4 linked regions of the Homo sapiens genome follow. The protein of the gene in region 1 purifies or fractionates together with the protein of each later gene. This does not show direct contact. Each region holds a gene or a part of one and is shown in the gene's direction. Other genes may lie near its edges.

Region 1 (7,035 bases):
ACACCAGCAATTTCTATCAGTGAGCCTACTGAATCTTCAGAAAAACCTTTTGAGCTGAGAAATCATTTTATGAAAGGTCTGGCTTCCAATCCTAGTTCATCCACTTACCAGATGGTGACCTTGGGCTACTCACTTATCACCTCTGTGTCTGTTTCCTCATCTGTACAAAGGAGATAATTCCCAGTCTAGTTATGGGGAGTACGTGAGTTAAGGCCTGGAAGCCCCTTTCTTCCAGAGAAGGAAACAGGCTAGAGAAGTTAAGTTCTTTGCTTGGTGCTACACAGCTAGAGTGTGGCAAACCTAGACACTATCTTGCCAATTGATACAGAACTAAGGCTGATAATCACAAACTAGTATAGCCATACCAATTGTTTAAATATTAAAATACTTCCAGATGGGTTGGTGTGTCACTGCTACACAAGTACTCCCTGTCCCTAACTGCCACTTTGGACCCCCCTTGTGGTATTATATATATAAATATATTGGTTTTCATCCACAGTTCCTGGCTGGTAACTCCTACAGCCTTTGTTACAGTCTCTTGTTATAATGTTGTGTACCTTAGGCCTGGGGCAGGTCTGAAGAAACAGAATCTCTCTGACCTCCTCCTGCCCTCCATTTCCTGCCCCAGGGCAAGACTCTAATCTTCCCCACCTTCTTGATTGTTGGTCTTAAGACACTTTTCAGAGAAGTCCATGCCCAATGCTGCTGTCTTAAAGCCTCCGTAAAAACCCAAGAGGACTGGGTTTGGAGAGCTTCCGCATAGCTAACCACCTGAGGGTTCCTGTAGGGTAGCACCCCAGGGAGGGCGTGAAGCTCCCTGCCCCTTCCCTTATACCTTGCCCTACACATCTCTTCATCTTTGTTCTTTGCAATATCCTCTATAATAAACCAGTAAATCTAAGTAAGCATTTCCTTGAGTTCTGTGAGCAGCTCCAGCAAAAATTTTTTTTTTGTAAGATGGGTCATCCAGGCTTGAGTGCAGTGGCAAGGTCACGGCTCACTGCAGCCTTGACCTTCCAGGCTCAATTTATCCTCCTGCCTCAGCCTCTCAGGTAGCTGGGACTATAAGCACATGCCACCACACCGGCTAACTTTTGTAATTTTTTTTTTTTTTTTAGAGACAAGTTTGCCATGTTGCCTAGGCTGGTGTCAAACTCCTGAGCTCAGGTGATCTGCCCACCTCGGCCTCCCAAAGTGCTGGGATTACAGGCATGGGTCACTGCGCCCGGCCTTATTTTTATTTTTTTAAAAAAGTCGGGTGTGGTGGCTCACGCCTGTAATCCCAGCACTTTGGAGGGCTGAAGTGGGCAGATTGCTTGAGCTCTGGGCAACATGGTGAAACCCTGTCTCTTCCAAAAATACAAAAATTAGCTGGGTGTGGGGACAGCGTTGGAATGGAATCGGAGGGGACACCTAGCTGTTGTCTGCTGTGTAGTGTGTGGGGAAAAAGCCCCACACATTTGGTCACAGAATTCTGTGTTGATGATTGTTGTGATAGTGTGAGAGTAGAGGAAAAACACAGTTTGAGGGTTTTTTTTCCCCATAACACTTCCCCAACCCCAGACCTCCCCATGGTCCAGCAACTAAAGGGTTAAGGCCTGGTATCCGTCCCGCTCCACTCTCAGTTCTGATTGGTGCCCACACCAGTCCCCACTGTTGAATATTTGGAGTGTCACCTCTCCCTACCCCACTGAATAAGAACCAGAAGGCAGCCTTGTTGCCCACATGCGGAAATTAAGACCTAGAGAGGGGGACGGGTGCGGTGGCTCATGCCTATAATCCCAGCACTTTGCGAGGTTGAGGCATGTGGATCACCTGAGGTCAGGAGTTCGAGCCCAGCCTGGCCAACATGGTGAAGCCCCATCTCTACTAAAAATACAAAATTAGCCGGGCGTGAGGACGCACACTTGTAGTTCCAGCTACTCGGGAAGCTGAGGTAGGAGAATTGCTTGAGCCTGGGAGGTGGAGGTTGCAGTGAGCTGAGATCACACCACTGCACTCCAGCCTGGGCAACAGAGAGAGACTCTGTCTCAAAAAAAAAAAAGACCTAGAGAGGGGCAGGGCTTGCAGTCAAGACCCTGTAGACAGTCAGGGACAGAGCTGGGGTCCTCTGTGCCCCATGCCAGCAGTGAGCACACAGTTGGGCTTGGTGGGGATGGGTGCTATGTAAAAATTTATTGAATCATCACAGGTCTTTCCTTTCCCCCTATCCAGCATCCCTCTCTACCTGCCAACATCCTGTATTAGAGAACTTGTGGCCGGAGGTGTGGCTGTGGAGAGCTGGCCGGGGAGGGACGCTGCTCAGCTGCTGCTCTGCTCCTGTCTCCTGTCCCCTCCCCCGGTCATGACAGAGACCCGTGAGCCAGCTGAGACTGGGGGCTACGCCAGCTTGGAAGAAGATGATGAAGACCTTTCCCCAGGTAAGGTGGCCTTAGAGGTGGTGGCGTCGGCTTGACTGTCATCCTGGCTTAGGGTTTGGCCCCCACTGGGAAATGTTGATGGGGAGTGGCTGCTTGTCTTGCTAGGGGTTCTATTCTGACTGAGACTGCTTGTCCTAGTAGGGGATCTCTTCCAGTCGGGACTTCTGGGGACTGTAGATTGACTGGGGTCGCTCTCCTTGCTAGAGGTTCTAGATTGGCTATGATTTCCTTCTTTGCTGGGGGTTCTAGATCGGCTATGAGCTTTCTCCTTGCTGGAGGCTCTAGGTCGACTGTAACCACTCTGCTTATTGGGGCTTCTAGATCGGCTGTGATCTCTCTCCTCGCTGGAGCTTCTAGATTGTCTGCGCTCTCTCTCCTTGCTGGGGCTTCTCCATCGTCTGCGATCTCTCTCTTTGCTGGGGCTTCTGGATTGTCTGTGCTCTCTCTCCTCGCTGGGGCTTCTAGATTGGCTGCGATCTCTCTCCTTGTTGGGGCTTCTAGATTGTCTGCGCTGTCTCTCCTTGCTGGGGCTTCTAGATCGTCTGTGATCTCTCTCTTTGCTGGAGCTTCTAGATTGTCTGCACTGTCTCTCCTTGCTGGGGCTTCTAGATCGTCTGTGATCTCTCTCTTTGCTGGGGCTTCCAAGTTGGCTGTGATCTCTTTCCTTGCTGGGGCTTCTAGATCGGCTGCGATCTCTCGCCTTGTTGGGACTTCTAGATCGGCTATGATCTCTTGCCTTGTTGGGACTTCTAGATCGGCTGCGATCTCTCGCCTTGTAGGGACTTCTAGATCGGCTGCAATCTCTCGCCTTGTTGGGACTTCTAGATCGGCTGCGATCTCTCGCCTTGTAGGGACTTCTAGATCGGCTGCGATCTCTCGCCTTGTTGGGACTTCTAGATCGGCTGTGATCTCTCTGCTTGTTGGGGCTTCCTGATTGACTGCGACCACTCTCCTTCCTGGGGCTGCTAGATCCCCTGTGATCTCTCTCTTTGCTGGAGCTTCTGGAATGGCTATGACTTCTTTCCTTGCTGGGGTTTCTAGACCAGTTGTGACTTCTTCCTCTTCTGGGGGTTCTAGATTGGTTTTGACTTTTCCCCTTGCTGTGGCTTCTAGACTGGCTGTGTCTTCCCATCTGGCTCAGAATTCCCTTCCGGGTGCGACTTCTTGCCCTGCTATGGTTTCTCTTCCAACTGTGACTTCTCACTCTGCTGTGCGTCCTCTTCTGACTGCCACTTCTTGACCTTCTGGGGCTTCTAGATTGGCTGTGACTTTGCGGCCTGCTGCGGGTGCTGGCCTGGTTATAACTCTTGACCCTGCTGGACATTTCAGTGGGGCTGTAACTCTTTTCCCTACTGGGGATGATCATCTGACCGTAGCTCTTCACCTTCCTTGATGAGGATGGAGATGGGTTGTCACTCTTCTCCTTGGAGGGAATTCCAGTCGGGGTTTGACACTTGGCTGTACTGGGAGTTACAGCCAGCTCGGAACTCCTCCCTATACCTGAGCCTCCTGGTGGGCGGTAACTCTTCTTGCTCAGATTTCTAGGCTGGCTGTCACTCCTTTCCCTGTTGCTGGTTCTAGGCCGGCCGTAACTCTTTCCCCGGCTCCCTTTTTGCTGTGAAGTGGGAGTTCTCACCCTGCTGGCCATGCCTGGTCTGGCACCATGAGTTCTTATCCTGCCAGGAGTGCTGGCCCTGCTGGGTGACCTCTTGGAGCTGCGGCTTCCCCTTCTGCCAGGTGTCCTACCCCGGCTGTGTGTGCCCCTCCGCTGGTGGCATCTCACGTCGCTGGCCTTGCTGGCTTTGCTGGTCCTGGTGTCGGTGCTCACCCTGCTGGGTGTTCTTGCTTTGCTGCGGACTCGGGACCTGCTGCTGGGCCGGTTAGAAGGGGCTCTTTTTGTACTGGTCGATTTGGTGGACTTGGAACTGCTTGGGCTCATGACTGAGTTACGGGATGTCGCTGGTTTGGTGGGCACTAAGGATCTGTTGGGTGTTGCTGATTTGGTGGACTTCAAGGAGGCAGGAGGCTTGGGATCCGCAGTGGGCATGGAGGATCCACTGGGTGCCAGAGACATACTGGGCTTTGAAGATCTCTTAGGTGAAGACATGGTGGGCGCAAAAGGGCTTGTGGTCCTGGAAGTCACAGTAGACATGAAACACCTGGTAGCCGTGGACGATGACCTGATTGCCTGTCACAGGCCAACTGTGTGAAGTAATAGTGGGCATTGAAGACTCTGGAGGGTGAGTGGTATGAAGTCAGAGGTGGGAGGAGAGAGGGGAGGGGTCCCAGCCTGAGGCTGGAGATATTTCCTCTGGTTTGCAGCCATTCAGCAGATGTCTTCTGAGGCTGACTCATGCCCAGCATTGCTGGGGACACAGAGATGGGGCAGACCCAGGCCCTGCCTTCAAGGAGCCCATAGTCAGTGGGTGGGGAGGGGGGCCACTGCCCAGAGTGGTCAGGGTGTGATGGAGAGCAGTGCAGGGGCCGGGGAGCCCATACGAGAGAGACACTGACCGCTTGGGGAGTCAGCGAGGACTTCACAGAGGAGGTGACATGAGCTTGGCTTTAAAAAGGAGCAGGAGTTTTGCCAGTAGAGAAAGAAAGGGTCAGGCTGGGCGCGGTGGCTCACACCTGTAATCCCAGCACTTTGGGAGGCTGAGGCAGGCAGATCACCTGAGGTCAGGAGTTCAAGACCAGCCTAACCAACAAGGTGAAACCCCATCTCTACCAAAAATATAAAAATTAGCCAGGTGTGATAGCACACGCTTGTAATCCCAGCTACTTGGGAGGCTGAGGTGGGAGGATCGCTTGAACCTTGGAGGCGGAGGTTGCAGTGAGCCAAGATCACGCCATTGCACGCCAGCCTGGGTGACAGCGAGACTCTCTCTCGAAAAAAAAAAAAATGAACGGGTCAACCAGGTGGGCGAGGAGCAGAGGCCAAGGCTTTGGGGAGGGAGATCAGGGTCTTGGGGCCACTATCATCCACTCACCCACACGTCCTCTGCTGCGGACCCCAAGATCATACCTGCCCTTGAGGAGTTCCCAGTCAGATAAGGGAGATACCCTGGGGGGCAGCTGACTGCAGTCAGCTTCTAGGGCAGTAACAGGAGGAGGTGCTGGGGCAGGGGAAGCTGGAGAGAGACCTGGCTGGGAGCCTGGGGCTTCAGGGTGGTGGCTTCACAGAGGACAGAGTTTGTGCTGGGTCTTGAAGGATGAGTAGGGGGTCACCAGGTGGATAGAGTGGGGAACAGCCCATACCAAGGCCTCAGGAAACGATTGTTAAATGGCAGGAACTAGTAGGAGAGAGCTGCAGGGACGGATGTTCAGAAGGAAAGAGTTATAACCTGTTCTGGGCTGGTGATGCTGGGGACCCAGCAGGAGGGTGGTAAAAAAAGTGACTGGCTGCCTGGGATGAGGAGGTCTGGGACGGCCTCACCAAAGAGGAAGGCCTCCCACTGGGTCCTAAAGGATGGTGGGAAAAACTAGGGCAGGACATTCCCACCAGAGGGAGGAACAGTGTGTGTGAAGCCTCAGAAAAGGTTTGTCAAATTCCATGCAGAGATATCCATGCCATAAATATGTCATAAGTACTTTCTTTGCACAAAGGAAGTGTTTTAGATGCTGGGGCCACAGCAGTGAACCAGACAAAGTCCCAGCTCTCGGGGACAGGCAGTAAACAAACACACAAGTAAATGTTGAATGCAGTGAGTCAGAAGATGGAGAAAAATGAGCCGGCTGCGGTGGCTCATACCTATAATCCCAGCACTTTGGGAGGCTGAGATGAGTGGATCACTTGAGGTCAGGAGTTTGAGACCAGCCTGGCCAACAAGGTGAAACCCCGTCTCTACTAAAAATACAAAAATTACCTGGGCATGCTGGTGCGCCCCTGTAATCCCAGTTACTTGAGAGGCTGAGGCAGAAGAATTGCCTGAACCCAGGAGGCGGAGTTTCCAGTGAGCTGAGATCACGCCACTGCACTCCAGCCTGGATGACAGAGCGAGACTCTATCTCAAAAGAAGATGGAGAAAAATCAAGCAGAGTAAGGGGCGTAGGGAGTGCTGGGGAGTGGCCAGGGCGTCACTGAGAAGGTGACACTTGAGAAGAGACATGGAATGGAGAGTGACATCGGCAGAAAGGGTGGCAAAGACCCTGAGGCAGGTATGGGCCTGGGGTGTTGGAAGGTGAGGAGCCTGGTATGAAGAGCCTGTGGCCACTGTGATGACAGGAGCAAGGGCGGAGCACAGGGTGCAGTAGCAGGATCCTCTGGGTTCTGGGAGAAACTGAGGAATGGGGCTGGGATGGATACAAGGTGAGGCTTTTGGCAGGCTCCTACCACCAAGGCCGAAGAAGCTGGTACTTCCCACACCGTGGTCACAGGGACCCCATCCCCAACCATTACTCTGTGTGTGCGCCCCCATAATGGCAGCTGATGTCGCCCTTTTCCGTATATCAACTATAAATTTTTCCCCTTTTCTTTTTTTTTTTTGGGAACGGAGTCTTGCTCTGTCACCCAGGCTGGAGTGCAGTGGTTCAATATTGGCTCATCGCAACCTCCGCCTCCCGGGTTCGAGCAATTCTCCTGCCTCAGAGTCCTGAGTAGCTGGGACTATAGGCA
Region 2 (3,355 bases), on another chromosome or scaffold:
CCCCTGTATCTCCTGAGTCAGTAAAGGCTACTCTTAGTAATCCCAAACCCCAGAAGCAGTCTCATTTCCCGGAAACATTGGGGCCACCTTCAGCCTCATCTCCAGAGTCACCAGTTCTAGCTGCTTCCCCAGAACCTTGGGGACCATCCCCAGCTGCATCTCCAGAATCTCGGAAGTCAGCCCGGACTACCTCCCCTGAGCCAAGGAAGCCATCCCCTTCAGAGTCTCCTGAACCTTGGAAGCCGTTCCCTGCTGTCTCCCCAGAGCCTAGGAGACCAGCCCCCGCTGTGTCACCAGGCTCTTGGAAACCAGGGCCACCTGGGTCCCCTAGGCCTTGGAAATCCAATCCTTCAGCATCATCAGGACCTTGGAAGCCAGCTAAACCTGCTCCATCTGTGTCTCCTGGACCTTGGAAACCAATTCCTTCTGTATCTCCTGGACCTTGGAAACCAACTCCATCTGTGTCTTCTGCATCCTGGAAATCTTCATCAGTCTCACCCAGCTCCTGGAAGTCTCCCCCTGCATCTCCTGAGTCATGGAAGTCTGGCCCACCAGAACTCCGAAAGACAGCTCCCACGTTGTCTCCTGAACATTGGAAGGCAGTTCCCCCAGTGTCTCCAGAGCTTCGCAAACCCGGCCCACCACTATCCCCAGAGATCCGTAGTCCAGCAGGATCTCCAGAGCTCAGAAAACCCTCAGGGTCACCAGATCTTTGGAAGCTTTCTCCTGATCAGCGGAAAACTTCTCCTGCTTCACTTGATTTCCCTGAGTCCCAGAAAAGTTCCCGTGGTGGTTCTCCTGATCTCTGGAAGTCTTCCTTTTTTATTGAGCCTCAGAAACCTGTCTTCCCTGAGACCCGAAAACCAGGTCCTTCTGGGCCATCTGAGTCCCCCAAAGCAGCCTCAGATATCTGGAAGCCTGTTCTCTCTATCGATACTGAGCCTAGAAAACCTGCCCTGTTTCCCGAGCCTGCCAAAACAGCCCCTCCTGCTTCTCCAGAAGCACGCAAACGTGCCCTTTTTCCAGAGCCCCGGAAGCATGCCCTTTTCCCTGAACTCCCCAAATCTGCTCTATTCTCAGAATCACAGAAGGCTGTTGAGCTTGGTGATGAACTACAAATAGATGCCATAGATGATCAAAAATGTGATATTTTGGTTCAGGAAGAACTTCTAGCTTCACCTAAGAAACTCTTAGAAGATACTTTATTTCCTTCCTCAAAGAAGCTCAAGAAAGACAACCAAGAGAGCTCAGACGCTGAGCTTAGTAGTAGTGAGTACATAAAAACAGATTTGGATGCGATGGATATTAAGGGCCAGGAATCAAGCAGTGATCAAGAGCAGGTTGATGTGGAATCCATTGATTTTAGCAAAGAGAACAAAATGGACATGACTAGTCCAGAGCAGTCTAGAAATGTGCTACAGTTTACTGAAGAAAAAGAAGCTTTTATCTCTGAAGAGGAGATTGCAAAATACATGAAGCGTGGAAAAGGAAAGTATTATTGCAAAATTTGTTGCTGTCGTGCTATGAAAAAAGGTGCTGTTTTGCATCATTTGGTTAATAAGCATAATGTTCATAGCCCTTACAAATGCACAATCTGTGGAAAGGCTTTTCTTTTGGAATCTCTCCTTAAAAATCATGTAGCAGCCCATGGGCAAAGTTTACTTAAATGTCCACGTTGTAATTTTGAATCAAATTTCCCAAGAGGTTTTAAGAAACATTTAACTCATTGTCAAAGCCGGCATAATGAAGAGGCAAATAAAAAGCTAATGGAAGCTCTTGAACCGCCACTGGAGGAGCAGCAAATTTGATAACACAGTGTGAATATTTGTTCTACAAAGGTGTTTGTTGGAACCATTCTTTGTAAGTATAGCTTATCAGATAGCATAGTTGGATCAGTAGATGACATGTATGGTGTACCGTGTTTCACTGTCTCAGTTGTGTTACTAAGAATGAGCATTTGATCATTTTTTTCTGGTCTCTGTCTATGTGACTATCTTGTAAGTCAATAAATTTCTGTATAGTCCAGATGGATTAAACTTCTCATTTCTTTTAAATATGTATGAATAATAATACAAGGAAGTAGGCATTCCATTTAATAATCAAGAGCAAGTTGTACTCAAAGCATTCAGTTAAAGTGTATCTGTGTGTGGAACTAATTTCAGACAATAGAAAATATTAGTTGAAATGTTTAAGAATTAGGCATGAAAAATAAATTTGAGAAATTTTGTTTCCTTACATGTATTTTTAAATCATAAGAGTTATTTTCTATCTGATGTAAAATTAGTTTATAAATCTTAATCAGCTTCTAGATGTTTATTAGCTTTTATGTCATGAAATGTTGGAGTCTCAGGGTTGCTGATTTTCTGCTAATGGGAAAAATTGACTAAGTCTTTAAAATAGTTTGCAGCCTTCTCCCACAGGAGACAAGTGAAAGATAAGTGTGATTTTAGATCTTTCTTGTCCATAGTTGTTTTCAGTGGAGTCTTCCATTCTGTATCTTACCCTAAGATCTGGTTCTTCCCTCCCCATCCCCACCCCCCACCCACCGCCTGCCAGCTCACACTAATAGATGATTCTTAATTGCCAAATGTGTTAGAGTTTGTATATCCTACTCCTGGGCCTTACATGTCGCCTGTTGGGGCTTAAGACCAGGTTGATAAGTAGGAACTGAAAGTCTTCCAGATTCACAGTAGAAAATTTTATAGACATTTCTGTTAAAGAAATATATCGATTTTATGTTTTTCAATTATGTTACTGTAAATACCTTGTACCTGTTCATGGATTATTTTATTCTAAAATATTTTGTCAAATGTGTATCAACCAAATTAAAAAGAAAGGTTTTCATGTCAGCAACATCTTCATGTGTGTTTTCTTTTGTGTAGTTTTCATTGTATGATATACAGATCCATTATTTCCATGTTTTCAACATAGTTTTCTTATCTGGAGCAGCATTTTCTTAGCTGTGTTTTCTCCAAGTTCTGTGGTCAAGTAAGTTAGGGGAATGCGTGTATAGGGAGGACTCTGTGTCAAAAACCTCATCCTTTCATATGAAAGGTTTTTTAATTCCAGTGGTTGCCTATCCTGCCTGCCTCTAAACAGTGTGAGGCATTTAATCTCAAAGCATTCTGATGTGTAGCCAGGATTGAGATGCTGTACTGGGTTTATTTTAGCTATTCCCAGACATTTTTTTAACAAGGAACAGTTTTGTCCTAGTTCCCCACCCGCTGGCTTCCCTATTAATATGCCCGTTGGGATAGCTTAACAATATTTAGTAATATGGTTTGGCTCTGTGTCCACACTCAAATCTCTCTCTTTTTATTTTTGTTTTTTATTTTGAGACCGATCCTTGCTGTGT
Region 3 (7,234 bases), on another chromosome or scaffold:
TAAGTATTTCCATAAACTGTAGAAAAGAAACACTCTCCAGCTATGTAACTGAAAAGCTCAGCTTGGGACATCCATTAACCTTTGACTTTCTTTCTTAGAAAAAGTTTCTAAGTTGGCTACTGAAGACTGGAATAATTTTTAGGAGTACCACTATTAGGATCAAATTTCTTCAACATATCAGACTGGATTGGCTTTCAGATTCCTCCCCAGTATGTTACAGAGGCACATACGAGTTGATTTCTAAGGATCTGATTCAGGTTATTTGTTCTACTACTTGGGTTTCCCATCATCATCAAGATGGTTCAAACCATTATCCAGATGGTCCAAAAGAGAGACCAAAGCTATCAGTTCTGTTACTTCACTCTGGAAACCTGTGTTTTAGCTGAAGAAGCAAAATGTTCCAACACTGTCCAAATTAATATGAGCATTCTCTCTTTAGCACAAGGAATACGTTTCTGGAAATAGCAGTGTTAACTGTATAGTCTCTTTTGAAGTGCTGCACCAGTGTTGTAATGTAAGGTGGCAGAGTTTCCTTGAAATCTTCTGAAGGTATAAAATGTCTTTGCTCATCATTTCCTTTTTTTTTTTTTTTCTTTGAGATGGAGTCTCACTCTGTCACCCAGGCTGGAGTGATGTGGTGTGATCTCGGCTCACTGCAACCTCCACCTCCCGGGTTCAAGCGATTCTCCTGCCTCAGCCTCCTGAGTAGCTAGGACTACAGGCATGTGCCACCACGCCTGGCTAATTTTTGTATTTTTAGTAGAGATGGGGTTTCACCATGTTGGCCAGGCTGGTCTCAAACTCCTGATCTTGTAATCCACCCACCTCGGCCTCCCAAAGTGCTGGGATTACAGGCATGAGCCACCACACCTGGCCAGGATACCTTTTACAACGTCAAAAGACACTCCATTCCCTAATTGCCTGTTGATCTTTACCCTCTGTTTCCTCACCCATTTCCTCAAAGGTGCCTCCAGATCCTGCAAAACTCCCACTTTTACATTTAGCATGATAGACTTTCTGTATTCTTGGTGGCAGGCATAGCACCATCACTCATTTTATTGGGCATTATGGGTCAAAACTGTCTCCCAGGGCACAAACTAAATGACAGAAAAATAGAGAGGAGTAAGTAACACACCACAGAACTCAATCACCTGAAGCAGCAGCTTCACAACTCCCATCCTGGTCCAAGCTACCATCAACTCTCACCTGGATTATTGCAATAGCCTTCTATCTGGTCTCCCTGCATCTGCCCTTGCCTCTATTAGTTATTCTTCACAAGCAGCCACAGTGATCCTTTAAAAACGTGAGTCAGGCCGTGTCACTACTTGCTTTATGATCCTCCAGCAGCTTCATTTTCACTACAGGTAAAACCTAAACTTTGCTTCACTTTCTTCAGGTCTTTGCCCAAATGTCACCTTAACAAGGACTTCTCCAATCACCCCACATAAAATAGCAAATTCTCCACCCCCATGTCTGCACCACACTCCTAATTCCCCTATCCTGCCCTTTACCCTTCATAGCACCTATCACCATTTCATATAATCCATATTTATTTACATAATGTATATCAGATTGCATTTTCCAAGATGGCCACAAGATTTCCCTTTCCGCACACTTTCTTACAATGTGACATTTCCACTATTCCCGTTGAGAGATGGGGATCTATGCTCTCCATCCTGTAACTGTAATGGAAGTAACACTATATGACCTCTGAGACTAGGTCACGATCTCTGTCTGGTCCTTTTGGGGCACTCAGTCTTGGAACTCAGCCACTATGATATGAGGAAGCCCAGGCTACATGGAGAAGCCACTTGTAAATGGTCTGCCAACAACCCCAGCTGCGGTCCAAGCCAACAGTCAACCTCAACTTCCAGACATGTAAGGAAGCTTTTGAGATTACTTCAGCCCTAGCCACTGCATACGAGACTCCCAAGTGAGAACTGTTTAGCTGAGCCTAATTACCTCCCAGAACCATGAGAGGTAATGAAATTGTTGTTTTAAGCCACTAAGTTCGGGGTCATTTGTTATTTAACAATAGACAATAGAACAATTTGTTTATGTGTATATTTTATGTCTCTTTCCTTCTAGAGTATAAATCCCACAGATTCAGGTATTTGTTGTTGTTGTTGCTGCTGTATTCCCAGCACCTAAAACAGTGCCTAGTACATGTGCTCAATAATTTTTTTTTTTTTTTTGAGACAGGATCTTGCTCTGTCCCTCCCAGGCTAGAGTGCAAGTAGTGTCATCATAGCTCACTGCAGTCTCAAACTCCTGGCCTCAAGTGATCCTCCCAAGTCTTCCAAGTATCTAGGAATACCACAACCAGCTAATGAAAAAAATTTTTTGGGGCCAGGCACGGTGGCTCACGCCTGTAATCCCAGCGCTTTGGGAGGCGGAGGCGGGCAGATCACGAGGTCAGGAGTTCGAGACCAGCCTGCTTGGTGAAACCCCGTCTCTACTAAAAACAGAAAAAATTAGCCAGGCATCGTGGCGCACGCCTGTAGTCCCAGCTACTCAGGAGGCTGAGGCAGGAGAATTGCACCCAGCAGGCGGAGGTTGCAGTGAGCCGAGATCGCGCCACTTCACTCCAGCCTGGGGGAGAGAGCGAGACTCTGTTTAAAAAAAAAAAATTTTTTTTTGTAGAGATGGGATGTTGCTAAGTTGCCCAGGCTGCCCTCAGACTGCTGTGATCCTCCTCCCTTGGCCTTCCAAAGTGTTGGGATTACAGGTGTTAGCCACCATGCCCAGCCCCCAATAAATATTCATTGAATGAATGAATGGATGCATGATCCATTTTCAATAAAGCATGCTAACAGTTACTGGTCAACGGTATATGGCATAGTCTGCGCTAGATCTCATTGGCTGGGAGAATAAATTGACAGGGCATGGGGAAATATGTTGGAATTTTTCAAAGGTTAATAACGTAATATACATAATGTAAATATAACATATATAATGAATTATACTAATTACACGACAGTATAAAATAGGATTTGAGTTTCATGTAGTCTTTTGGTGATTGATCCCATAATCCTAATATGGGCTTCTCCAGATCAGGTCTGGAAAGTCTTCAGAAGTATTTTCAGAAGGATTTAGTGATTCTTCTCATTCAAATAATGAAGTCCTTCCTAAGCATCCTACACTAGTGGAAATCACTCACATGGTTTTGGTATGAAATGGAATGAAACTGGGTGGTGGCAGTGTGTGTATGTGTATGCACATGTGCACACTCACACGGGCAGGTGCATACAATTTGGAATGCCTACTTCCACTGCCTATTTTCAGTCTGGTGGTTTGAATGGAGTGTGTATATAAAGAGCACAAATAAACATAGTTCTGGATTTCCCCTTTCTGCACCAAGTACCTTGATTTCACATTTGGTTTGAAGCAAATATTTGTGTATTGCTTAAATAGCAAACATTTTCAAATATTCAAGGAAAATATTACATTTTTATAATCTCAGAAGGCAATAAAGGACAAAATTTCTTAGCTACCTGAAAAGAGGTAGTTTTTGTCTGGGGAAGAATAAACAGGTGGATGGTCGTTTGAGTGGACTAACCAATTTCTTTGAGCCAACCCATCTCAGCCTTGATTGGAGCAAAAAGCATAAGGATGTGGAGTGTGTGTGGTTTCTTGGAACTGGGGATCTCTGCTGAATCTACTCACAATGGGAGCAAAGCAGTTTCCATCACAATAATCGCTTTAACAATCGTGTGCCACTTCTTTCCAGGATCCAGAAGGGCTTGAGGATCAAAATGGCTTTTAAAAGTTCTTCACTTAAACAAGGCCGCAGCCACAAGGTTACTTGGCCGAGTGTCTCTTGAGAAAGAGTGAGTGCCATTTTGTTCTTTGTTCCAATGACAGTTGTTGGTGCCACTGGGCCTCACCACCTGGCCTGTGTCATGAAGTCTCCCTCTTGACTGGGTCTAAGCCTTGAGTGGAAAGTGGGGGAGCCTCCCAACACTTCCTTGGAAACTCTTGGCAAGTAAATTGGGGAATATTTTCTTTGGAAGTCTCATTTTTCTCACCAAAATTTAGATATAGCTTCTGAAGCTAATTATTCTTTTTTCATTACAAAAAATGTTTTCCTTTATTTATTTATTTGCAGGCCCAGCCAAACTTGACTAGAAAAGAAGCCCGGGCAGGGGTTTGGATGAGCCCATGACGTGCAGCGCGCTCCGACCAATTGGGAGGCCGTGAAAAAGGGGAGGGCGGAAGTGACGAGCCGTATCCCTCCGCGGGGCGAGAGGGTCGGTGGGGGGAGTCGGCGTCTCTCTCCCCCGCGCCAGCTCCCGTACACGGAGCCGCATTCCTTGGCCCCCCCACCCCCCTCCCTCGGGGCCCCCCCGCCCCCCTCGGGAAAAAAATCCACCCCGAATCACTCGAACCCGAGGGAGGCTTCCTTTCACCCTTGGGGAGACGAGCTTTCAACGGTTACCTCTTCTTCGTCTCCCCCCAAGCCCCCGTCCCCTCCCCCTGCTCCCACCCCCTTCTGGCGCCGGGTGTAAGGTCCCTTTAAGGCGACGGCGCCTTCCTCGGGTCAGACTACCGGCGGCGACGACCACAGGAGGTGAGTGAGCGAGCGAGCCTTCTCTCTCCCCACCCCCTGCTCCCGGGGGTTCCGTTATCTTTTCGCTCGGCGAGGCGTTCAGAGGCGAGACAATGAGAGGGGGATGGGGCCGGTACGCGCGGGGGTGGGGGCGGGGGGCCGGCGGTGCGCGCCCCCGCCCACCGCGAGTGGCGGCGCGGCCCGCGGCAGGGGCGGCCGCGGGGTGCGGCGCGCGAGCGCGAGTGTGTGTGCGTGCGCCCCGGGCCGCGGGAGCCGCGCGAAGGGCCGGCGGCGGAGGTCCCTGCCTGCCGGCTGGCCGGCCGCCCCCGCCCCCCGGCGCCCGCCGCGGCGCGCGCGCGCGCACTCGCGCCCCACGGCCCCGCACACAGCCCGACGTCCACACGCACGCTCGGCGCGAGGCGTCTCGGAGGAGTGGGCGGCGCGGGCGCGGGCGGTGGCCCGCTGGGGAAGGGGCGGGGGCGGGGGCGCGGGCGGTGGCGAGACGGCGGGGCGCGGCGGGAGGGGCCGGCGAGGGGGCGAGGCCGTGCGGCGGAGGGGCGGGCGGCGGCGGAGCGGCCCCTGGGGGTGGGGGTGCGCGGCCCTCCCCGCCCCATTCCCGCTCCGAGAAGGAGTGGGGCGCTCGTTTTGAGCGGGAGGAGGAAAATGAGTGATTGCTGAGCCGATCCCTTGTGTTATGTAATCTCTGCTTGGTCTAATAGTACATCCTAAGCCTTAGTGCACTGCAGCTAGTTTACGAAGTCTCCTCCCTCGGTCCCCAAATTTCTTTTGGGATGGCGCCGTGATTTATAAAATGGAATGAGGCGGGGAATCTTTATTTTCTGGTGATTATGTCCTGCCGCGGTGGGCGCCATGTTTATCCCGGGGACTATTTTATTTAGATTCTTGGCACCTTTTGCAAAGGAGTACTGTCATTGATCTATTTGTTTTCCGTCTTTCTGCGTGTTGTTCTTATTTCCTTCCTCTCCAGATGTGGGATTCTCTCAAACTGCTAGTAGCACTTGTCTTAGACATTCTTAGTTCAGAAAAAGGTAGTGCTGATGAGTCCTTAGAGTCATTTAGTGGCCAGTCTCATTTTCGAAATGGAAACTAAGATGCAGTTGGACTATCTCACAGCAGCCGCCGTCTTGATGCAAGCGGTGTAGCCCGTCCTTCCAAGCCCGTAGACACCTCTTACCGCCGCTCAAAACTCCACAGAAATGGGGTTTTACTTTTTTTTTTTTTTTTGAGACGAAGTTTCACTCTTGTCGCCCAGGCTGGTGTGCAGTGGCACGATCTCTGCTCACTGCAACCTCCGCCTGCCGGGTTCCAGTGATTCTCCTGCCTCAGCCTTCCTAGTAGCTGGGATTACAGGCATGTGCTACCACGCCCGGCTAATTTTTGTATTTTTAGTAGGGACGAGGTTTCACCATGTTGGCCAGGCTGGTCTTGAACGCCTGACCTCAGGTGATCCGCCCGCCTTGGCCTCCCAAAGTGCTGGGATTACAGGCGTCAGCCACCGCGCCCGGCCGGGTTTTACTTCTGTAGGCATTTACCCAACTAGAGGAAAGGGAAACGGAGGGGGCAGGGAGGGCTGCTCGTTGGCAAACGATTAATTTTGAGACACTATTGCTCAGGGTCTGAGAGCTTGAACTCTGAATTCGAACTGTTAGCACAATCGTTCTCAACTTCGGGGTGCATAAAAAGTAACTTGAAGGTGGTTAAACGTACAATTTGGGGGGCCTCATCCCCCAAATTTATTTGAATGGAGCAGAGGGGGGTTGTCATCTTTACATTTTCAAATGAGCAGTCCTGGGGCTGAGACTGATTAATGTAACCACTACATTGAGAATTACTGGTCTAACATAAAAGTGTTCAAGATGTTGAAACAAGTGACACCTTGTGCCGTTGATTTCCTTCCCTTTTCCAGAGCTGTGTTGGTGGTGTATCTCAAACTAAAGGAGGTAACAGAATGGACTCTTGGGACGAACCTGATTTAGTTAGAGTTTCCACTCCCATCTTGAACTAGTGGTATAATGTAGGAAAGCAGTTCTCAAAGTGTGGACAGATGACCCATGGGGATCTCCTCTTACCCTTTCAGGGTAGCCTCAAGGTCATAACTATTTTCAAAATAATAGTAAGATGCTATTTATTGTTTTCACTGATACACTGATGGTTCAAAAGCAAGGCTGGGTAAAACTACTGGCGGTACCTTAGCACAAAGCAAGTCAGGGGCACCAAACTACTTGAGAATGCCCTTGAAGCAGTAAAATTTATTATTCTATTTTTATTTTTTTGAGGCGGAGTTTTGCTCTGTCGCCCAGGGTGGAGTGCAGTGGCACTATCTCGGCTCACTGCAATCTCTTCCTCCCTGGTTGTATTTTTAGTAGAGACAGTGTTTCGCCATGTTGGCCAGGCTGGTCTCGAACTCCGGACCTCAGGCGATCCACCTGCCTCGGCGTCCCAAAGTGCTGGGATTACAGGCATGAGCCACCGTGCCCGGCCTATTATTATTAAGTCTTAGCTTTTGACTACATGTCTTTTTAATTTTTAAGAATTTGTGATTAAATAAACATGGATAAAGCATTTATGCTGCCTAGGGAGGTGTGATTGTTGTCATGAAGGAAAAGCATTTGTGAGATTGGGTTGTGAATGAATGGCTTATTTCATGGAGTAGCATTTTTACTT
Region 4 (7,035 bases), on another chromosome or scaffold:
CTTTCTTTTTAAAGCTGAATAAGGCTGAGCATGGTGGCTAACACCTGTAATCCCAGCAGCTCAGGAGGCTGAGGCAGAAGGACTGCTTGAGGCCAGAAGTTGGAGACCTGGGCAATTTACTGAGATCCTGTCTCTACAAAAAATTAAAAACTAGCTGGGTGTGGTGACATGTGCCTGTAGTCCTAGCTATTCAGGAGGCTGGGTGGGAGGATCCCTTGTGCCTAGGAGTTCACGGTTGTGGTGAGCTATGATCATGCCACTGTGCATCAGCCTGAACTAGAGGGTAAGACCCCATCTCTTTAAAAAACAAAACAAAAGCTAGGCGCGGTGGCTCACGCTTGTAATCCCAGCACTTTGGGAGGCCAAGGCAGGCGGATCACGAGGTCAGGAGATCGAGACCATCCTGGCTAACACGGTGAAACCCCGTCTCTACTAAAAATGCAAAAACAAAATTAGCCAGGTGTGGTGGTGGGCGCCTGTAGTCCCAGCTACTCGGGAGGCTGAGGCAGGAGAATGGCATGAACCCGGGAGACGGAGCTTGCAGGGAGCCGAGATCGTGCCACTGCACTCCAGCCTGGGCGACAGAACGAGACCTCATCTCAAAAACACACACACACACACACACACAAAAACTGATTAATATTCCATTGTATGGATGTATTACATTTTGTTTATTCATCAGTTAATGGACACTTGTTATATCAGTTGGGGTTCTCCAGAGAAACAAAACCTATAGGATGTTTTGTAAATCTCTTTATACCAAGATATTTATTTTTTATTTTATTTATTTATTTTTTTTGAGACAGAGTCTTGCTCTGTCACCCAGGCTGGAGTACAGTGGCGCGATCTTGGCTCACTGCAAGCTCCGCCTCCCGGGTTCACGCCATTCTCCTGCCTCAGCCTCCCGAGTAGCTGGGACTACAGGCGCCCACCACCATGCCCAGCTAGTTTTTTTTGTATTTTTAGTAGAGATGGGGTTTCACCATGTTAGCCAGGATGGTCTTGATCTCCTGACCTCATGATCTGCCTGCCTCGGCCTCCCAAAGTGCTGGGATTACAGGTGTGAGCCACCACGCCCGGCCCTAAGAGATTTATTTTAAGGAATTGTTTCATGGGATTATGGATACCAACGAGATCTGCAGTCAGCAAGCCGGAGGCCCAGGAGAGCTGGTGGTGTGGTTTTATTCTACAGGCCATCAGGCCACCAGGCAGAAGGAGTTCCCTCTTCCTCACCGGAGGGTCACCCTTTTTCTTCTCTTCAGGCCTTCTGCTGATTGGATGATGCCCATCCACACTGGGGAGGGCCATCTGCTTTACTCAGTCCACCAGTTCAATGCTCATTTCACCCAGAAACCCTCACAGACACACCCAGAATAATGCTTGACCAAGTGTCTGGGCACTCAGGCCCAGTCCAGCTGGCATATACAATTAGCCATCACACTTAGGTTGCTTCCACCTTGTAGCTGTTGGGAATAATGCTACTGTGAACATGGGTGTCATAAACTTCGTTTTGCTAGGAAGCGTTTCCTTAGTCACCCCCAACTATGTTCTTTCCTTATTCTGCCTTTCATCATCTGACATTATTTGTCCTGAGTCTTTGTCCTTCTCCCTTTTCTACCCTCTCCCCCTACTGTGGTTCTGAGAAGAATTTAATGCAGTTTACTCAGTGCATTTGTTTTCAATGCATGTTGCTTTATAAATGTTCTCAGGTGGGTGGAGGGCATGGTGCATGGACCTTCTTTTTCCTGGGACCCTAGCCCCTTCTCCCTGGGCCTTGAGAAGGCTTTGTCTGGAAGTGCTCAGAGTGGCATCCCTCCCTCCCTTCCTCTTCCAAGGAGATCCTGCTGGGCTCCCATCTTTAGGGCTCCTTGTCCTTAGTTGTGTTCTGGGCTCGTGCATAGAGCTGCTCTGCTTCCATGATGATTCTCCTCCTAGTTCTCTGTTAGGACCTAACATGGTGGTCAGTCTAACAGTCTCCTAGTGACCACTGTATGATGGTGACTGCACTCTTGCCTCATTATTAGCTAAACTGGAATGCTAGCTGGCCATTTCCATCCTGTATCATTCCATACTTTGTCTTGAAATCCTAGATAAAAGACTTGAACCACCACCCTGCTCACAGCACCCATTATACAGATGAGAAAACTAAGGCTTGGCAAGGGGAGTCACATGATGCTAGGGGAGGACTTTCCCCCAGCACCACACAGCCTCTTTTGACCTTCAGGGAATGGGTTGAGAATATTGGTTGGTTCTGGCTGCCATTCTTGTATGGTTTTGTGTTCCCTTTTCCTTTTTTTTCTATTTTTACCTGGGCTGAAAAGTCGATGACATAGTTTTTTCAGACTTTGTCTCTGAGGCCAGTTAGAAGTATATTTTACCTTGCAACCCAATGGATACACACAACTGAAACACTGTCTACCCTTATTTTCTGTCATGTATTCTGATATTTTCTATTCTATTTTATTATACAGTAGTCCCCCCTTATCAGCAGGGGACATGTTCCAAGATCCCCAGTGGACGCCTGAAGCCACAGATAGTACTGAACCCTGTATATACTATGCGTGAATTTTTTTTCCTTCTTCACAATTTCACGGATAGAAGATTTGTTCTTACAGGAGATCTTAGCAACCTCAGCATGCAATTTATTTTCTTTGTAAGTCAAGAGCTTTCACCTTTTCACTTAAAGCTGGCCAGGTGCAGTGGCTCACACCTGTAATCCCAGCACTTTTGGGAGGCTGAGGCAGGTGGATCACTTGAGGTCAGGAGCTCGAGACCAGCCTGGCCAACATGATGAAACTGTCTCTACTAAAAATACAAAAATTAGCTGAGTGTGGTGGTGCATGCCTGAAGTCCCAGCTACTTGGGAGGCTGAGACAGGAGAATCACTTGAACCTGGGAGGTGGAGGTTGCAGTGAGCCGAGATTGCACCAGTGCACTCTAGCCTGGTGACAGAGCAAGACTCTGTCTCAAAAAAAGAAAGCACTTTATGGCTTCTCTTTGGCATATCTGAATTGCCAACATCACTACTCTTGCTCTGTGGAGTCATAATGAAGTCAAATATGGGTTACTTGAATACAAGCACTGTGATACAACTATAGTGAACTGATAACCAAGACAGCTACGGACAGCTACTGAAAGACTAATGGGACGTTAGTGCATACAGTGTGGATATACTGCACAAAGGGATAATCTGCATCCTGGGCAGCACTGAATGGGACATAGCAAGATTTTATCATGCTACTCGGAATGGTACACTATTTAAAAACTTATGAATTATTTCTGGAATTTTCCATTTAATATTTTTGGACTGTAGTTGACCACAGGTAACTGAAACCATTGTGGATAAGGGTGGACTACTGCATTTAATTTAAAGAAATCCTAGTTCCAGCCCACTACATTGGGTTTAGGACTCATAATGGGTTGAAATTTTGATCTGAAATATATTGTTGTGTCATATCCATCGCTCCATCCTCTTCCATAGTATATCATTTCATTATTTCTTTCCTCAAACTTGGCCATGGCCTCTTTTTTTAAAACAAGAGACAGGGTCTCACTCTGTTCCCCAGGCTTGAGTGCAATAGTGCCGTCATAGCTTACTGCAGCCTCAAATTCCTGGGCTCACGCGATCCTCCCACTTGAGCCTCCCAAGTAGGTAGGACTACAGGTGTGCACTGCCACGCCCAGCCAATTTTTAAATTTTTTTGTAGAGATGGGGTCTCATCACGTTGCTGAGGCTGGTCTCAAACTCCTGGCCTCAAGTGATCCTCCTTAATTGGCCTCCCAAAGTTCTGGGATTACAGGCATGAGCCACCGTGCCCAGCCACCATGGCCTCTCTTGATCCCAAACCGTCATGGGCTGTTCCCTCTTCCTGCAGTGCTCGTTCTATCTTTAACCTGCAGTACTTGCCTCACTGACTCCTCTTCATCCTTGGCCTCAACTCCTTTCTTCAGGGAGGGTCTTGCTCACCCCTCACTGTAAACTCCCACAGCTCCTTGCTTTTTTTTTTTTTTTTTTTTTTTTTGAGACCATCTCCCTCTGTTACCCAGCTAGAGTGCAGTGGTGTGATCACAGCTCACTGCAGCCTCGACCTCCTGCCTTTCCCCTGCTGAATGACTGTCTTCCCCATTAGAGAGAGCTCGCGAGGGCGGGTGCTCTGATGCCTTACTCTCTGTTGAATTTCAAAACTGTTTGTAGAATTGAGTTGAAAGGAATGCCTTTCCCCCCTTTCTGGATGTCACTGGGATGTCCTGTGTAACCTCTTCTTCCTTCCATCTTTCCATCCTTGCCCTTCCTAGTTCTTGGCACAGCTGAAGATCATGGACTACAGCCTGCTGGTGGGCATCCACGACGTGGACCGGGCAGAGCAGGAGGAGATGGAGGTGGAGGAGCGGGCAGAGGACGAGGAGTGTGAGAATGATGGGGTGGGTGGCAACCTACTCTGCTCCTATGGCACACCTCCGGACAGCCCTGGCAACCTCCTCAGCTTTCCTCGGTTCTTTGGTCCTGGGGAATTCGACCCCTCTGTTGACGTCTATGCCATGAAAAGCCATGAAAGTAAGTCAGAGCCTGCGCCTGCTCTGCACAGCCCTGCCCTCATCCTACCCCCTCAGCTCATTGTTTAGATCCTTCTAGGGGCATCTGGACCTCCACCTCATTCATTGCTGCCTTTGACCTCTTTCTGCCTCCAGATTCCCATCCAGGGTCACCACCTGAACCTGGGGCTCCTCCTCTGCCAGGCTTTCCTATACTTCCCTGCTTGTCCTGGCTGACTGAAGAGTGGTTCTGCTCTGGTTCATGAGATGAACCAAACTTTATTCATACTGTCCTGTCAGCCCCACAGAGTGACTGTGAAGATCCAATAAGATAAGAGCTATGACAGCTGGAAAGGACTCCACTGGTCCTTTTCTCAGCCCCAACATGATAAGGATGGAGCTGAGCCTTGTGTCTGGGGGTTGTAGCAGTGCCCAGCTGCTGTCTGCCCTTCTCCTGCCCCCTCTTCCTTCTTCCCTGCTCTCCTTGTCCCTCCAGGTTCCCCCAAGAAGGAGGTGTATTTCATGGCCATCATTGATATCCTCACGCCATACGATACAAAGAAGAAAGCTGCACATGCTGCCAAAACGGTGAAACACGGGGTGAGTCCTCTCCATCTTCATCCAGGGCCCAGCTGGGTCGGTGCATCTGTGCTTACCCTCAGACCCCAGGGAGGGCAGTCTCAGGCCTCCTGCTCCAAGGAACACACTCCTGTCTCCTTCTTCCCAGGAGAGCAGACTGGAAGAGCAGCCTGCCTGCCTTGCCATGTTCCCTGCCTTCACCCACCTGCTCCCTGCCAGGCTGGGCCCAATTTGTTTATCCCCCAGTTCTCCAGCCCTCGGGGCCAAGCCTGCCAGTGTCTTTCCCCAGGGCCTGCTGGGCCTGTTGTGCATCTTGTTGAAGGGCGAGTAATAGCTTTGTTTCCATGCCCATACTGCTCCCCACAGGCCTGTTTCCCTGTGGGCCTGAAGCCCTGTTCTCCATGTAGTGGCCCCCACAGAGATCCAGAGCCGCGTTGCCACCTCCCCACTGCCTTTCTTCTACTTCGGTGCAGGCCTGGGGTTATAAATCACAGGAGTGGGGCCAGGACAGTTCAGGACTTGTATGCCACTTCCTGAGGTGGTCTGCTCAGTCTTGGTGGGGTTGGGGGTGGTATTCAGCTCTGATACTGAGTAAGAGGCTTCTGAATACCCTGGCTCCCCCCATGTGCAGCCTCCTGATTGGGGCACAGGAACTCAACCTGAATCAGCCTCTTGTGTATTACAGGCAGGGGCCGAGATCTCGACTGTGAACCCTGAGCAGTACTCCAAACGCTTCAACGAGTTTATGTCCAACATCCTGACGTAGTTCTCTTCTACCTTCAGCCAGAGCCAGAGAGCTGGATATGGGGTCGGGGATCGGGAGTTAGGGAGAAGGGTGTATTTGGGCTAGATGGGAGGGTGGGAGCAGAGTCGGGTTTGGGAGGGCTTTAGCAATGAGACTGCAGCCTGTGACACCGAAAGAGACTTTAGCTGAAGAGGAGGGGGATGTGCTGTGTGTGCACCTGCTCACAGGATGTAACCCCACCTTCTGCTTACCCTTGATTTTTTCTCCCCATTTGACACCCAGGTTAAAAAGGGGTTCCCTTTTTGGTACCTTGTAACCTTTTAAGATACCTTGGGGCTAGAGATGACTTCGTGGGTTTATTTGGGTTTTGTTTCTGAAATTTCATTGCTCCAGGTTTGCTATTTATAATCATATTTCATCAGCCTACCCACCCTCCCCATCTTTGCTGAGCTCTCAGTTCCCTTCAATTAAAGAGATACCCGGTAGACCCAGCACAAGGGTCCTTCCAGAACCAAGTGCTATGGATGCCAGATTGGAGAGGTCAGACACCTCGCCCTGCTGCATTTGCTCTTGTCTGGATTAACTTTGTAATTTATGGAGTATTGTGCACAACTTCCTCCACCTTTCCCTTGGATTCAAGTGAAAACTGTTGCATTATTCCTCCATCCTGTCTGGAATACACCAGGTCAACACCAGAGATCTCAGATCAGAATCAGAGATCTCAGAGGGGAATAAGTTCATCCTCATGGGATGGTGAGGGGCAGGAAAGCGGCTGGGCTCTTGGACACCTGGTTCTCAGAGAACCCTGTGATGATCACCCAAGCCCCAGGCTGTCTTAGCCCCTGGAGTTCAGAAGTCCTCTCTGTAAAGCCTGCCTCCCACTAGGTCAAGAGGAACTAGAGTACCTTTGGATTTATCAGGACCCTCATGTTTAAATGGTTATTTCCCTTTGGGAAAACTTCAGAAACTGATGTATCAAATGAGGCCCTGTGCCCTCGATCTATTTCCTTCTTCCTTCTGACCTCCTCCCAGGCACTCTTACTTCTAGCCGAACTCTTAGCTCTGGGCAGATCTCCAAGCGCCTGGAGTGCTTTTTAGCAGAGACACCTCGTTAAGCTCCGGGATGACCTTGTAGGAGATCTGTCTCCCTGTGCCTGGAGAGTTACAGCCAGCAAGGT

What was found.
Region 2: the proteins of ZNF428 (region 1) and CHAMP1 purify together in Homo sapiens (co-immunoprecipitation; 3 studies listed by BioGRID and IntAct, with this or other methods). This does not show direct contact.
Region 3: the proteins of ZNF428 (region 1) and POGZ purify together in Homo sapiens (affinity purification with mass spectrometry; 4 studies listed by BioGRID and IntAct, with this or other methods). This does not show direct contact.
Region 4: the proteins of ZNF428 (region 1) and PIP4K2B purify together in Homo sapiens (co-immunoprecipitation; 3 studies listed by BioGRID and IntAct, with this or other methods). This does not show direct contact.

What each region holds. Positions count from the first base shown.
Region 1 is NC_000019.10:43,609,614-43,616,648, reverse strand, and holds part of ZNF428 (zinc finger protein 428), read left to right. Parts: intron 1-2,150; exon of another isoform or gene 2,151-2,214; 5' UTR 2,215-2,344; coding exon 2,345-2,420; coding exon of another isoform or gene 2,421-4,527; exon of another isoform or gene 4,528-4,561; intron 4,562-7,035. Other genes in the region: SRRM5 (serine/arginine repetitive matrix protein 5), read right to left, coding at 2,380-4,527.
Region 2 is NC_000013.11:114,324,474-114,327,828, forward strand, and holds the end of CHAMP1 (chromosome alignment-maintaining phosphoprotein 1), read left to right. Parts: coding exon 1-1,808; 3' UTR 1,809-2,849; downstream 2,850-3,355. UniProt on the Homo sapiens protein: Required for proper alignment of chromosomes at metaphase and their accurate segregation during mitosis. Involved in the maintenance of spindle microtubules attachment to the kinetochore during sister chromatid biorientation.
Region 3 is NC_000001.11:151,456,488-151,463,721, reverse strand, and holds the start of POGZ (pogo transposable element with ZNF domain), read left to right. Parts: upstream 1-4,227; 5' UTR 4,228-4,570; exon of another isoform or gene 4,571-4,662; coding exon of another isoform or gene 4,663-4,682; intron 4,683-7,234. UniProt on the Homo sapiens protein: Plays a role in mitotic cell cycle progression and is involved in kinetochore assembly and mitotic sister chromatid cohesion.
Region 4 is NC_000017.11:38,768,534-38,775,568, reverse strand, and holds part of PIP4K2B (phosphatidylinositol 5-phosphate 4-kinase type-2 beta), read left to right. Parts: intron 1-4,296; coding exon 4,297-4,555; intron 4,556-5,029; coding exon 5,030-5,133; intron 5,134-5,797; coding exon 5,798-5,878; 3' UTR 5,879-7,035. UniProt on the Homo sapiens protein: Participates in the biosynthesis of phosphatidylinositol 4,5-bisphosphate. Preferentially utilizes GTP, rather than ATP, for PI(5)P phosphorylation and its activity reflects changes in direct proportion to the physiological GTP concentration.